Homo sapiens: one gene and its partners. The protein of the gene in region 3 purifies or fractionates together with the protein of the main gene of each other region. This does not show direct contact. Each region holds a gene or a part of one and is shown on either strand. Other genes may lie near its edges.

Region 1 (3,500 bases), on a different chromosome or scaffold from region 3:
CCCTAAATGGGGCACCTGCTCACTCATCTCTGCAGGTCAGCACTGAGGCCAGCACCTGTGGGCACTGGCAAGTGGCTATGAGCGGGTAACTCTACCTGTCTGGTAAGGCTGCCTCCGAGGTTCATGGTGCCAGAGCCAGATTTGTTGGTCTGCAGCCACAGCATCACCGTGGAGGTCAACTTGTAATGGGCGGTGCGACCGCTGGATTTCTCCTGGAAGGACAAGACAGAGATCTGTTGAGCTGAGGGAGAGCCTGAAGTGGCCCCTGGAATTCAGGGTCATCCTAACATCTCCCTTCCTAGGTCATTATCACAATATTACCTTTTTTTTTTTTAAATTGGAGACAAAGTCTCGCTCTGTCACCCAGGCTGGAGTGCAGTGGTGCGATCTCAAGTCACTGCAGCCTCCACCTCCCAGGTTCAAGCGATTCTCCTGCCTCAGCCTCCCAAGTAGCTGGGATTATGGGCGCCCGCCACCACGCCTGGCTAATGTTTTTTGTGTTTTTGGTAGAGATGCGGTTTCGCCATATTGGCCAGGCTGGTCTTGAACTCCTGACCTCCGGTGATCTGCCCACCTCAGCCTCCCAAACTGCTGGGATTACAGGCCCGAGCCACCGTACCTGGCCTCACAATATTGTCTTTCTTAAAAAATCTCAACTGGTTTTTAAAGGGACATTTGTAATTATGTATTTCTTCTGGGAACTTAATCATCAATGACTACTGCAGACTTATCTTTATCCAAATGGCTTTGAGGCATTTCTCAGAATTAGGGGTTCAGAGATCACAGCATCCCCCTACTGCATCTGTTAGAGAGCAGCGCGGCACTGGTTGGTGTGCCATCTGTACTTAGTGGCCCGGGCCACCAGCTGCTGGGAGGCAGTACCTGCACTTCTACCACGTGGATGGAATCCCAGCAGCCTTTGATCTTCTTTGATCCATCTCCAGCCTTCTTTATGAGGATCACTCCAGCAAAGCCATGATCCAGATCCCAGAGGTAGACAGATGAGACGCCACCTTCAAAATACCTGCAGGAAACAGGCCAATGTGCCTGTTAGATGCTAAAGGACAGATCATCAGCCTGGGTCCCAGGCTGCTGCTCAGCAAAGATTCTGGGATTCAGGGCCCTCCCTGCGACAGTTATGGGAGCCGATCCTTGGGTGTGTTCTGATCGTTCTGTGGCTGGGGGAGGGGGTGCAGCATTCCTGGGGGTGTAGTAGGTTTAGGCGTCATAAAGATGAATCTGAGGTTGGACTCTGCCACCTCCTCTATCTGTGTGGTCTTTGGCTTACTGAACCTCTCTGGGCGTCACACTCCTCCCAGATAAAGAATGCAGCACGACTGACATCCAGTGACAATCCATGCAGGCCATGACTACTGGAGTCACCACGGTTGTTCGATATTTCTGTCTTTTGGGATATTTTACAGGGCAGATGAGAAAATACAGCAACAAACTCCCTACACCCTGATCCCTCCTGAGCCTGGCAGACCAGGGCTCCAGTTGGTCTTTCGGAGCAACCTCCTACAAAGCGCTAGCCGGAAATGAAGGGCTCAGCTTGAGACAGTGCTTCCTCCTCAAATCCGACGCAATGCAAAAACATCTTTTCTTTTTTTCTGTTTTTGAGATGAAGCCTCACCATCTCCCAGGCTGGAGTGCAGTGGCACCATCTCGGCTCACTGCAACCTCCGCCTCCCAGGTTCAAACGATTCTCCTGCCTCAACCTCCTGAGTAGCTGGGATCACAGGTGTGCACCACTGCACTTGGCTAATTTCTGTATTTTTAGTAGAGATGGGGTTTTGCCATGTTGGCCAGGCTGGTCTCAAAACCCTGACCTCAAGTGATCCACCCGCCTCAGCCTCCCAAAGTGCTGGGATTACAGGCATGAGCCACTGCGCCTGGCCCAGAAACATTTCTAATTATAATCAAATGGAAGAGGGATTTCTAATTACGATCAAATGGAAGAGGGAACGAAAAGGTTAGATGAGAAATGGGAATCAGTCTGGGATCCCAAACCCAACAGACCCAGGTCAACTACTGTGGCTCACTGGGACTGCCGTGAGCAGAGGTGAGGGGTGGAGTCAGCTGATGGGAACCGCAAATGCTGTTGATAACCAACAAAAACTATGCGAAATCTCATTTCTTGTGGCGAAAGTCTGTAGCCTCTCCGACCCCAATTAAGCCCCAAAGAGAGAAATCTCATCTCTCGTGGTGAGCACATCTTTATCAGAAAGTCTGGGGCCTCTCTGACACCTATTAAGCCCCAAAGCCACGGTGTGGCAGGTGCATTCTGGGAGCACCCTGCCCTCAGCCCTGGACAGCTGGGAAGGTGGGCCGCAGAGTGCACTGGGTGGGTACAGGCTTGGGAGTCAGACAGACCCAATGACAGCTCTAGCACGCCCAGCTATGAGTTATGCTCATGCATGCATGCGTCCAACAACTATTTACTAAGGGACCAGCGGTGTGAATATGGGCCTCAGGGACTTAATCTACTTTCTACGGCTGTTGAGAGACAAAAACAATTAGGAAAAGTAGACACCTGCCAAACGGTTAATGTAAAATTAAGTACTAGAAATTAACATGTATCTGTAGATTATGTCTCACCAAAGCTATTATATAACAAAAAATACACATTTACAGAATGTGGGTGATGGGTATACAAGAATTCTCTGTACTCTTTTTTTTTTTTTTTTTTTTTTGCAATTTTACAGTAAGTCATACCATTCCAAACTAAAAAGCTTTTGTGAAAAATCAGTACACGAATACACCGGAGTGTAATGTAACTAAGAGACCACCAGACCAAGAAAGCAAGGCATCCTCCCAGGAGAATGAGGGTGCCCTGGCTGGTCTGCCCTCACTCCAACCCGCAGACCTGCGGAGCATCCAGGGGGCCGATACTCAGGTGGGCTACCCTTGGCCCCCTGCCCAGGGCTCCCTCAGGCAGGCTGCGGCCAGCCCCTGCGGCAGGACCACATCCTGTCCCATTCCCCTCTCCGGCACTACCCACTATGATTAAGCTCTCAAACCGAGTACACCATGGTGTGTCCACGGGTGAGTCTACAGGAGGGCAGATGAGGGCAGGGCTGTCTGGCTAACCAAGTGTCACTCAGGGAACACCTGTCGGATGGAGGTGTCAGGTGTCAGATGCTGAGCCCATCGCTGGTCAAACTGCGCAGGGTGGGGAAGGGTCTGGCTCTGGCCAGGTGCAGCACAGGCATCCTTTCCTACGAGAGGAAAAGGACCACTGGATGAACAGACACACCTGTGAGGCCCAGAGCTCACTGCTGGCAGAGGTGATGTCCAGGAAACCGGCCAACACTGGCACTCAGAGATCCCACTCCAGAAGATCATTTCCTTTATTCCGGTCTGCTCCAAAGTCCCCATTCTTGGGGCGAGGCGAGGTAAGCAGATGAGTGTTTTGGTCCAGGGCCCAAAACCCCATCTGCCTCCATAGAGCCCTCCTGGTCTGGACCGGGCCCACACAGAGTTGGAGAGATCAGGCCATT
Region 2 (3,500 bases), on a different chromosome or scaffold from region 3:
CCATATTGAGTATATGATATGTGCCTGGCCTTGTGTATGGATGTGCAGGCCACTATCCCTGACGACAGGGAGGTCACAGTCCTGCTGGGGAGATGAGAGATTTACATACCTGAACCAGGGATGCGTGCTTAGATTTGAGAGGTGAAAGGTCAGAGTGGGCTTCCCAGAGGAAGTGGGTCTAATGGATGGAAAGGACAAGGAAAAGGGAGAAGGGGTGAGAGTCTGTCCTAGGGGCCAACGAGAACAGTGAGCTGTTTCAGGGGAGCCATTTCCTTGTCCATGCTCACAAGCCTGTGGATTCTTCCCCCTCTGCAGGAAATTACCTGATGTTCCAAACCCCCTCCAGATCCTGTATATCCGCAGCATCTCCCCTTTCCCTGAGCTGGAACAGTTTCTACAGGACACTATCAAGAGGTACTAGGGGCCTGGAGGTTTGGGCTCCAAGAGAAGCTTGACAGAGCCCACGCCCGACCCCTACTTCTGTTTCTTCCTAAGGTATAATCTGCAGATGTTGGAAGCTGAGGGCAGCATGAAGCAGGCCCTGGGTGAACTGCAGGCACGGCACCCCCAGCTGGAGGCTGTCCTTATGGGCACCCGCCGGACTGACCCCTACTCCTGTAGCCTCTGCCCTTTCAGCCCCACTGACCCAGGCTGGCCCGCATTCATGCGCATCAACCCACTGCTGGTAATGGGGAAGAGGGTTTATCACCTTCAGTCTCACGTGCCCCAGCAGTCACTGCACCCTAGCTCACCTGCAGTAGTGGGGAGGCTAGAGCCTGGAACCTGGATGAAGGGGCCTCATCATCCAAGGGAGGCAGTGCTATCTGTTCATTCATCCTTTTGACCAATATTTATTGAGCCCAAATTCAATAGCAGGCATTGCACTTCCTACTGTGGATAGAATAGTGACTTAGACTTGTGCTGTCCAATATAGCCATTAATTATTTATTTATACTTAAATTTTAATTAATTAGAATGAAATACATATGACTAAAAACCACTGAATTATATACTTTAAAAGGATGAATTTGATGGTATGTGGATACCTCAATTTTTAAAATTAAGTACAATTAAAAATTCAGTTCTGGCTGGGCGCAGTGGCTCACGCCTGTAATCCCAGCACTTTGGGAGGCCATGGTGGGCAGATCACTTGAGGCCAGGAGTTCGAGACCAGCCTGGCCAACATGGCGAAACCCTGTCTCTACTAAAAATACAAAAAATTAGCCAGGCGTGGTGGCCTGTAGTCCTAGTTACTCGAGAGGCTGAGGCAGGAGAATTGCTTGAACCCAGGAGACGGAGGTTGCAGTGAGCTGAGATGGCACCACTGTACTCCAGCCTGGGCAACAGAACAAGACTCTGTCTCAAAAAAAAAAAAAAAAAAAATATATATATATATATGTATATATATATATACACACACACATACACAGGCCGGGCGTAGTGGCTTACACCTGTAATCCCTGCACTTTGGGAGGCTGAGGCAGGTGGATCGCCTGAGGTCAGGAGATCGAGACCAGCCTAACCAAAATGATGAAACCCAGTCTCTACTAAAAATACAAAAATTAGCGGAGCGTGGTGGCAGGCACCTGTAATCCCAACTACTCAGGAGGCTGAGGTAGGAGAATCACTTGAACCCAGGAGGCAGAGGTTGCAGTGAGCCAAGATGGCACCACTATACTCCAGCCTGAGCAACAGAGTGAGACTCCGTCCAAACAAACAAAAAAAAAATACAGTTATTCAGTTGTACTAGCCACATTTCAAATGACCACCATATTAGACAGTAGAGATACAGAACATTTCCATCATCACAGGAAGTTCTGGCCAGGCACAGTGGCTCACACCTGTAACCCCAGCACTCTGGGAGGCCGAGGTGGGCTGATCAATGCCTGTAGTCCCAGCTACTCAGGCTGAGGCGGGAAGATCGCTTGAGCCAGGGAAGTCGAGGCTGTAGTGAGCCATGATCATGCCAGTGCACTCCAGCCTGGGCAACAGTAAAGGCCCTGTCTAAAAAAAATAGGGCTGGGCACGGTGGCACACGCCTGTAATCCCAGCACTTTGGGAGGCCGAGGCAGGCACATCACGAGGTCAGGATTTCAAGACCAGCCTGACCAACATGGTGAAACCCCATCTCTACTAAAAAAATACAAAAATTAGCCGGCTGTGGTGGCGCATGCCTGTAATCCCAGCTACTCAGGAGGCTGAGGCAGGAGAATTGCTTAAATCTGGGAAGCGGAGGTTGCAGTGAGCCAAGATCGCGCCACTGCACTCCAGCCTGGGTGACAGAGCAAGACTCCGTCTCAAAAAAAAAAAAAAAAATAGGGCCGGGCATGGTGGCACACGCCTGTAATCCCAGCACTTTGGGAGGCCGTGGCGGGCGGATCATGAAGTCAGGAGATGGAGACCATCCTGGCTACACAGTGAAATCCCGTCTCTACTAAAAATACAAAAAATTAGCTGGGCACAGTGGTGGGCGCCTGTAGTGCCAGCTACTCGGGAGGCTGAGGCAGGAGAATGGCATGAACCCGGGAGGCAGAGGTTGCAGTGAGCCAAGACCACGCCACTGCACTCCAGCCTGGGCGACAGAGCCAGACTCCGTCTCAAAAAAAAAATAGACGGTTTCTCCCTGTCCTCAAGCTCCACCCTTGCACTAGAGGGTGGTTCAAGAATGGAAAGCAGAGAGTGGAGAAGATGAAGTCCTTCTCTTTCTCTTTGCATACATAGAGCAAGCTATACCAGAGAATCAGATAGCAAGCCCTCCCTCAGAGGCCAAGGGAGCAGAAGAGCCATGGATGGGCCCCTTCCCAGGACAGCAGGGGTAGAAGTGGGAAAGGTGAGCATTTGTGACTATTCTATTACTCTGACCTCCCAGGACTGGACCTACAGAGACATCTGGGATTTTCTGCGTCAGCTGTTTGTCCCATACTGTATCCTGTATGACCGAGGGTAAGGGTATTAGGGGAAGGGAATGGGTAAGGGAGTTTTTAGGGTGCTGGGATAGGGAGGGCCAATAGGATCGCCCACCCTACCACATGCTTGCCCTCCACCCTCCCTGCTCCAGATACACATCACTGGGGAGTCGGGAGAATACCGTGCGGAACCCGGCCCTGAAGTGCCTGAGCCCAGGAGGACACCCCACATACCGTCCAGCCTATCTACTGGAGAACGAAGAAGAGGAGCGGAACTCCCGCACATGACCTCCCACCCTAGGAGGGAGGGAAGGACACCGTCCTAGGGTATAACCTGGCAATAAACCGTGCCTCTCACTGTGCCTGTTGCTCTAGCTGTGTCTTCCTGCTCCAGAGGATGGGAGAAGCAGAAGTGGGTCAAATGCTGCCAGCTCTGACTGGCTGTGCTCACTCTAAGGGGCCCAGGGGCAGGGCAGAACAGGCTGGAAAGGAGCTCTCACTGATGGTTCTCAATGTCAGCCTCAGCAGGAGCCCACCAGAGGGCGAAAGCAGGAGTTGTGCCAACCACTGGGAAAAGGGCAATCAGGCAGGGCA
Region 3 (4,770 bases):
TTTGACAAAACCCAGTGATGTTCTGACCCAACTCTACTAAGAATCCACCGTGTCAGAGTCCTGTGCCGGGGCATTGAGAGAGAGGAAGCACAGGCTCTGCCCCAGGGCAACCTTCAGTCTGAGGTGGGTAACAGAGACGCTGTATAAGATAAGTCCCCTGTCTGGTGGGGAGCGGGTAATCTCCTGCTTGAGAGGCTCCAGCCTATTGGCAGAGACATAGCACTTAACCAGAGGGATGCACCGGTCCTAGCTCTCTGATGAGATAAGGGCTTGGGGTTCGTTTGGGAGACCCCTGCAGAAGGTAGGGTTTGGGGAGGGCTCTGAGCAGGGGAAGAGACACACGCCTTGGTCCAGAGAAGGCAAGGCACAAAAGGTTATCAAAGCCCCTGCCCCCTCAACCCCTTTACTATAGAAAGAGAAAGTACAGCCCAGAAAGGGCAAGAGATTACTCCGTGGGACAGAAACAGTACTGGGACAGGACACTGCCCTGCTTGTCTCTAGATGGTGAGGGCAAGTGGAGAGCCTAGAAGCCAGGGAAAGGCATGACTGCTGGCAGAGGACAGAGCCCCAGAGTACAGAAGGGAAAGCCTAGGTCCAGGATTTCCACCCTTACTCCAATGGCAGCAATAATACCCCCACTGATATTCGCAGTTTTCTCAGCTTTTGAATATACATCATCACATTGCTCGATCACCCACCCTTTTCCTTTTACAAAGGAGGAACCGAGGCCAGGAGCACACAGGTGGGCAGATGCCCAGTGCCCAGACCAGCATCTCCTCCCCAAGCCTCAGCCTGACAAGAGCTACCAGCCTGCCCGTTGCATAGAGGAGGTCACTGAGGCTGAGGGACCTTGGCCCAGGGTGGCCGGGCACAGGGAGGAAGCTGAAAGCTAGCAGGAGGGCTGAAAGCAGCCATGTGAAAGAGATGATGAAGATGGCCTGGGATCATGGGGCAGAGCATGTGGCTATGACCTAAGAGGTGTTTTAGAGAAACAAAGATGGGCACTGAGGCCTAGTGCAACAAGCGGAAGCTACTGGGAGAAGTGGGAGGAAAGCAGAGTTAGGGATGCCAAAGGGGAGTAGGGAAAGGAAGCCCCTGCTGTGGGGGTGAGGCTTGCAGGGGCTTGGGTAAAGTGGACAAGAACTTAGATGGCCCAGATATTTAGAGAGCTTTGGGCATCTAGGAGTCAGAAAGTGGCAATATAGGCTGGGTGCAATAGCTCATGCCTGTAACCCCAACACTTTCGGAGGCCGAGGCAGGCGGATCACCTGAGGTCAGGAGTTCGAGACCAGCCTGACCAACATGGAGAAACCCCATGTCTACTAAAAATACAAAATTAGCCAGGCGTGGTGGTGCATGCCTGTAATCCCAGCTATTCAGGAGGCTGAGGCAGGAGAATTGCTTGAACCCAGGAGGTGGCGGTTGCGGTGAGCCAATATCTCGCCACTGCACTCCAGCCTGGGCAACAAGAGCGAAACTCCGTCTCAAAAAAAAAAAAAAAGAAAAGAAAGTGACAATGTGAGAGATTCAGGACCAAGGGTGTACAGAGCTGAGCCGGGCCCAGGAGGTGTCCGGAGAACTTCCCTTAATCAGGGGCCAGCGCAGATCAGGAGATGGAGTAATCCTGACCCACATCCTCTGGGAGCAGGGGAGGGGCCCTGGCCAGAGAGCCCAGCCCTTGCAGCAGGGGCCTGGGGCAGGCAGATGGCAGCCCCACCTAACAGCCAGAAAGAAACCGCAGCAAATCACAGAGGCCTGACTTTGCCCCCTACCTTCACCCACTGAGAGAACCGGCCACTGTCAGGCCAGGAGTATGAGGAGGACAGGCACTATATTTTGTAGAAGAGGAAATGAAGGCTGAGAGGGGAAGTGACTTATCTACCATCCCACAGAAAGGCAGGGCCTGGCCTAGAGGGAGCCCTGACGGACCACTAGCTGCTCCTATCCATGGCCCTGGAAAAGTGGGAGGTGGGCACTGAAGGGACACAGGCAGTCCGGTCCACTCAGGGCTTCCCAGCTGGCCAGGGTTCCCCCAAGGCAGAGAACTTCATCTTTCCTCCCCATCCAAGGAGGCAAAGACATGCCCCTTCCCTTGGGCTGAGAGGGGCTGAAGCTGGGACCCCCTCAGGGGATAAGAAACAAATTCACCTTCCTCTAGACCCAACAGGCCCCTCATTTTAACTTAATCATTCCACAGGCATATATTAAGTGCTTGCTGCGTGCTGGACCCTCGGATAAAGCGGCTGCTGGCAGAACTGAGTTTGCAAGTAAAGGGCAGGGGCAGGGGCAAGACCCAATCCCAGGCCAAGAGTGTTTTGAGTGGTTAGAAGGAGGCTCCAGGGACACAGTTGGTCCAGCCCTCGGGTGGGGAAGGCAGGGACTAAGATCAGACCCTAGGTGGGCCGGACTCCCGATTCCTTCCCTACAGCTAGCTGCTCAGATGGATGTGGAGCGGGGAGAGAGTGGGGGAAAAGATACAGAGACTTATACAAGGGAGAAAAAAGCAACTTCTCCAATCCTCCTGCCACCAAAGCATGGTCACATCCTTGAGACAGGAACCCCCCAACACACACATACACACACACACAGAGTCAGGATCCGATCCTTGAGACAGGAACCCCCCAACACACACATACACACACACACACAGTCAGGATCCGACACACACACACACACACACACACACACACACAGAGAGAGAGAGAGAGTCAGGATCCGACCACGGTAATCGGGGTTCGAGCCCAGTCACCCAGGCCACTTTCAGCAAGTCATCAATCTCGCTGGAGTCTCAGTCTCCTGGTCAATCCAATGGGAACGGTAACAACCACGACGCCCCACAACTGGTGAGAAAGTCAGCGAGAATGAAGGAGGACGCGGTCTGCGAAGTCCCCGATATGGATCCAGCCCCTCGCCCCTGCCCCATTTGCCCAGGCTCTTCCTGAGGTGAGACTGGCGGGAGTGGGGCGGGCAGGAACGAGGGCCTGAGCCCAGGACCGCAATCCCCGTGAGGGGCTCGAGGACCCCAGCCCAACGCCCCGCCGGGCCCCGCCCTCACCTCCTCCTCCATGGCGAGTCCGCCGAGGTCCCGCCGCTCCGCCACTCGCTTCCAGCGCCGCGCGGGCTCTGCCACCGCGTCTACGCCCGGCCAGGCGGCGACTCTCCGCGTTCTGTCCCGCCGGCTGCCGGGGGCCCAAGAAACTTCGGGGGGGCGGGGCCGGGGGCGGGGTGAGGCTTCCGGGGGCCGGGGCGGGGCCGGGGAGGGGGCGGTGGGGCCGGGGGCCCGGCCCAGGGCGGGAAATGGGTGGGGAGGGGCGGGGCCTGGGTTGGAGACTGGACGGAGGAGCCGGGCGGAGATGCAACTGGAGGAAGAGGGCGGGACGGGGCGGAGAAGGTTTCCCGCATCGGCGGAGGGAGAGGGACTAGGAGGGGGCTGCGGCGGGGGAGGAGAGGGGGCTTCCGGCCCAGAGACTGAGGCGAGGGTGGCGGGAGCGGCGCGCAGGCAGGGCTGGGGTGGGGCGCACACAGTGAGCGCTGGGGGCGCTGGCGGTGGAGCCTTTGAGGTCTCCCGAACCAGTGGGCTGGGGTTGCGAGACCGAGCCGAGCTGCCCTGGGCGGCCAGAGATGTGGGCACACAGAGGCTCCTCCTCTTTCCTCCCCGACGCCGGGCAGTGGGCGGTGGCCTGGTCTTCTCCCTGGAACCTCTGGGCGGGGCCGGGCCTGGAGCTTGGGTCTCTGTCCGGAGGGTGGTGTCACAGGAAGAGCTGGAGCTGAGAGTCGGGACTCCGGGGTCCCTTTAGGGGGCGGCCCGCCCCTGGCTCTCAGGGGTCTCCAAGCGCAGTGTTCTCCTGCTCTCCTTGGGCATCGCTCAATCCCTCCCGTATCTGAGGGTCGACCATCCCCCCGATCCCGCGGTGAGCTTGCAGCCCTGACAGCCTTACTGGAGAGTGGGAGTGTGGGGACCAGCAGAGAGTAATGATTTTAGTTATACCATGCGCCCTCATTTTACATTGGAGAAACTGAGGCCCAGAGAGAGAAAGTAACTGGCTGCATCGCAGCCTGCAGCACCGCTCCCCTCTCACACACACACGCATACTCCCCCTTAGCTCTCCTGGTCAACCCCGTCCCATGCCAAGGAAGGGAAAATTAAGTGCATGTGAGATCAATGGTGACCTTCTTCGGCTCTGGCTGCCATAGCAGCGGCTGTGCCAGCGACCAAGCTCCCCTTTCACGGCCTTCTGCCAGCCCTCAGGCTCCCAGGCTACTTCCAGCCCTGTACGGAAAAGGGCAGCCTGGGGCTCCCAGGCCAAGGGGGAAGGAGATGCAGGTACACTTCTCCCTCATGCCTAGGCCTGGGATCCTTTAGCTAAAGGAATGAAGAAAATTGAGGCTGATATTATCACACTGGTCAAGAAAAAGAAAGAATAGAAAAGAAAGAGAGAGGAAGGAGAGAGAGAGGAAGGAGGGAGGGAAGGAAGGAAAAAAGGAAAGAAAGAAAAAGAAAAGAAAGAGAAATGAAGGAAGGAAAGAAAGAAAAGAAACAAGGAAGGAGAGAGGAAGGAAGGACGGAGGGAAGGAAGGAAAGAAAAGAAAGAGCTGGGAGCGGTGGCTCACACCTGTAATCCCAGCACTTTGGGAGGCTGAGGCAGGCTGATCACCTGAGGTCGGGAGTTCAGACCAACCTGACCAACGTGGAGAAACCCCGTCTCTACTAAAAATAGAAAATTAGCCAGGCGAGGTGGTGCATCCCTGTAATCCCAGCTACTTGAGCGG
Region 4 (3,500 bases), on a different chromosome or scaffold from region 3:
AACTATATAAGTTTCTATTCTTGAGCAGCATGTATTGTTATTTTGTATGTTTTTTTTTTAATTAGTATTTATTGATCATTCTTGGGTGTTTCTCGGAGGGGGGGATTTGGCAGGGTCATAGGACAATAGTGGAGGGAAGGTCAGCAGATAAAGATGTGAACAAAGGTCTCTGGTTTTCCTAGGCAGAGGTCCCTGCGGCCTTCCGCAGTGTTTGTGTCCCTGGGTACTTGAGATTAGGGAGTGGTGATGACTCTTAACGAGCATGCTGCCTTCAAGCATCTGTTTAACAAAGCACATCTTGCACCGCCCTTAATCCATTTAACCCTTAGTGGACACAGCACATGTTTCAGAGAGCACGGGGTTGGGGGTAAGGTTATAGATTAACAGCATCCCAAGGCAGAAGAATTTTTCTTAGTACAGAACAAAATGGAGTCTCCTATGTCTACTTCTTTCTACACAGACACAGTAACAATCTGATCTCTCTTTCTTTTCCCCACATTTCCCCCTTTTCTATTCGACAAAACCGCCATCGTCATCACGGCCTGTTGTCAATGAGCTGTTGGTTGCACCTCCCAGATGGGGTGGCGGCCAGGTAGAGAGGCTCCTCACTTCCCAGACGGGGCAGCCGGGCAGAGGCGCCCCCCACCTCCCGGACGGGGCGGCTGGCCGGGTGGGAGCTGCCCCCCACCTCCCGGACGGGGCAGCTGGCCGGGTAGGGGCTGCCCCCCACCTCCCGGACTGGGCGGCTGCTGGGCGGAGACGCTCCTCACTTCCCAGACGGGGCGGCTGCCGGGCGGAGGGGCTCCTCACTTCTCAGACGGGGCAGCCGGTCGGAGACACTCCTCACCTCCCAGACAGGGTCGCGGCCGGGCAGAGGCGCTCCTCACATCCCAGACGGGGCGGCGGGGCAGAGGCGCTCCCCACATCCCAGACGATGGGCGGCCGGGCAGAGACGCTCCTCACTTCCTAGACGGGATGACGGCCAGGAAGAGGGGCTCCTCACTTCTCAGACTGGGCGGCCGGGCAGAGACGCTCGTCACTTCCTAGACGGGGTGGCGGCCGGGCAGAGGCTGCAATCTCCGCACTTTGGGAGGCCAAGGCAGGCGGCTGGGAGGTGGAGGTTGTAGCGAGCCGAGATCGCGCCACTGCACTCCAGCCTGGGCAACATTGAGCACTGAGTGAGCAAGACTCCCTCTGCAATCCTGGCACCTCGGGAGGCCGAGGCTGGCAGATCACTCGCCGTCAGGAGCTGGAGACCAGCCCGGCCAACACGGCGAAACCCCGTCTCCACCAAAAAATACAAAAACCAGTCAGGCGTGGCGGCGCGCGCCTGCAATCCCAGGCACTGGGCAGGCTGAGACAGGAGAATCAGGCAGGGAGGTTGCAGTGAGCCAAGATGGCGGCAGTACAGTCCAGCCTCGGCTCGGCATCAGAGGGAGACTGTGCAAAGGGGAGAGGGAGAGAAGAGAGGGAGAGGGAGAGCTGTATGTTGTATTTTATTTTATTTATTTATTTATTTATTTATTTATTGAGACAGGGTCTCACTCTGTTGCCCAGGCTGGAGTGCAGTGGTGTGATCTTGGCTCACAGCAACCTCCGCCTCCCAGGTTCAAGTGATTCTCCAGTCTCAGCCTCCAAAGTAGCTGGGACTACAGGTGCACACCACCATGCCTGGCTAATTTTTGTATTTTTAGTAGAGACGGGGTTTCACCATATTGGTCAGGCTGGTCTCAAACTCCTGACCTCAGTTGATCCACCCACCTTTGCCTCCCAAAGTGCTGGGATTACAGGCGTGAGCCACTGCACCCAGCCAATTTTGCATTCATTCAGCATTGTTTCTAAGATTTATCTGTATTGACGTTTATAACTTTATTGATTTTTCATTGCTCCATAGTATTTTATTATATGGCAGTGGTACCGTTTATCTTTTTCTCCTATTGATGATTTTATTTATTTTTTTTTCTCCAGTTACTGATTCTTTTGAGTGTTTCCAGTACATGGTCTTTGTATATATGTGCAAGATGTTTCCTATTCCAGATTCTAGGAATAAACTTGCATAGACTGTAGGATATACACTTCTTTGGCTTTACTTGATATTGCAGAATTCTTTTCTGGGCTGGTTTTTTCATCACTAGCTCTTTAGCCACTCTTTAGATCAATGACTTGTGGGTTTTTTATCCCTTGGAGGTGCCCGAAATCAGGTGGTGATAAGAGCAGAGCCCCAACTCTGTGCCTTGTGTGCGGATCTCTGCTGTGCTCCCAGAGTTACTGCTGCCAGACTGAACTGGAAGGGGAGGATGTAGGAGCCTGCACAGCTCACACCTACTCCTGTGGCTCTGGAGTGGGCATCTTCCTGAGGTAAGGACCTGCAGGGGCTTTTTAGCTTTGGATCTGCCTCAGTATCTGACTGTTAGGGTGTCACAGGAAACTACTATATTGCCAGGAATTTTGAGACTACTGTTCCGTGTGATTCATTCCAGAAACGTGGAGCTCCTTGTCGCCTCACATCTCACATCTGGTCCATGCCAACTCTGTGTTGGTTCTTTTATTGTTACCATTCCCACTCCTCTTCCCTCAACCATAGGTGACAGTTCTGTTCTACTTTCTCCATGTCTCCCACTAATGTGAAACTTCTCTGATTTTCTGAACAAATCCAGTCAGAATTACTCTTTCTGTTATGTCCTCATGGCTTTTGGATTTTACCTCCACTTATACATATTATCACAACTCTACATGCCAGCTTGTGATTAGTGACTACTATGTACCAGGCATTGAGGATGCAGTAGTCCACAGTGCAAAGATCTCTGCCCTTATGGATGGAGCTTGTTTTGTATGAGAGAGAGGACAAGCAAGACTGACAAGAATTTAGATAGTGATATAGGCTAAGGAGAAAAAATAAAGCAGGGAAGGGGAATATGAAATGGCAGCTATGGAGCTAAATTTGAGATTTAATTTTAGTAGATCAGGGAAGGCTTCCTAAGAACATGACTTCTGAGTAAAGACCTAAAGAAGTGGGAGAACATTCTACTCAGAACATTCTGCACAGTTCCTGGGGTAGAAATGTGCCTGTCTGCTCAAGGCAAGGAGGCGCGTGTCACTGGAGTGTTGTGCACAGGTGAGAGAATCCAGGGGCCTGCTGTGTGCTGGTGACATCTCTGGGCAAGGTGTAAGCCATTTCAGGGTTTGAAGCAGAGGCATGACATGAGTGTGGGCTCCTCTGGAGCATAGGTTGTATCCATAGCTTAGTCATCCCCCCAGTACCTTGATAATTTCTTATACGTATTAGGTCCTCAATAAATGTCTGTTTAATTGTGCTGTACTATTAATGCCAGAAAAAGGCAAATGTCTCAAAGGGATCAGGGGACACAAATTTGACTCGATTCAACCTATTTCCTAGTTTGTGCACAATTTTTTAATGGATAACTTCCTCCTAATAGTGGTTTAAATATCAGTACTATAAGACTTCATTCTATTTGGAACTGAATACAAATGTTGGTTAC

Evidence for each region. Proteins that work in one complex are often made in the same cells at the same time.
Region 1: the proteins of PLEKHO2 (region 3) and CAPZB purify together in Homo sapiens (affinity purification with mass spectrometry; 5 studies listed by BioGRID and IntAct, with this or other methods). This does not show direct contact.
Region 2: the proteins of PLEKHO2 (region 3) and FLAD1 purify together in Homo sapiens (affinity purification with mass spectrometry; 3 studies listed by BioGRID and IntAct, with this or other methods). This does not show direct contact.
Region 4: the proteins of PLEKHO2 (region 3) and UBR2 purify together in Homo sapiens (affinity purification with mass spectrometry; 3 studies listed by BioGRID and IntAct, with this or other methods). This does not show direct contact.

What each region holds. Positions count from the first base shown.
Region 1 is NC_000001.11:19,356,540-19,360,039, forward strand, and holds part of CAPZB (F-actin-capping protein subunit beta), read right to left. Parts: intron 1,025-3,500; coding exon 883-1,024; intron 213-882; coding exon 96-212; intron 1-95. UniProt on the Homo sapiens protein: F-actin-capping proteins bind in a Ca(2+)-independent manner to the fast growing ends of actin filaments (barbed end) thereby blocking the exchange of subunits at these ends.
Region 2 is NC_000001.11:154,989,844-154,993,343, forward strand, and holds the end of FLAD1 (FAD synthase), read left to right. Parts: intron 1-315; coding exon 316-414; intron 415-495; coding exon 496-685; intron 686-2,721; coding exon of another isoform or gene 2,722-2,748; exon of another isoform or gene 2,749-2,869; coding exon 2,870-2,943; coding exon of another isoform or gene 2,944-2,947; exon of another isoform or gene 2,948-3,058; coding exon 3,059-3,194; 3' UTR 3,195-3,268; downstream 3,269-3,500. UniProt on the Homo sapiens protein: Catalyzes the adenylation of flavin mononucleotide (FMN) to form flavin adenine dinucleotide (FAD) coenzyme.
Region 3 is NC_000015.10:64,840,314-64,845,083, reverse strand, and holds the start of PLEKHO2 (pleckstrin homology domain-containing family O member 2), read right to left. Parts: upstream 3,170-4,770; 5' UTR 3,068-3,169; coding exon 3,056-3,067; intron 1-3,055.
Region 4 is NC_000006.12:42,686,029-42,689,528, forward strand, and holds part of UBR2 (E3 ubiquitin-protein ligase UBR2), read left to right. Parts: intron 1-2,187; coding exon 2,188-2,358; intron 2,359-2,958; coding exon of another isoform or gene 2,959-2,980; exon of another isoform or gene 2,981-3,500. UniProt on the Homo sapiens protein: E3 ubiquitin-protein ligase which is a component of the N-end rule pathway.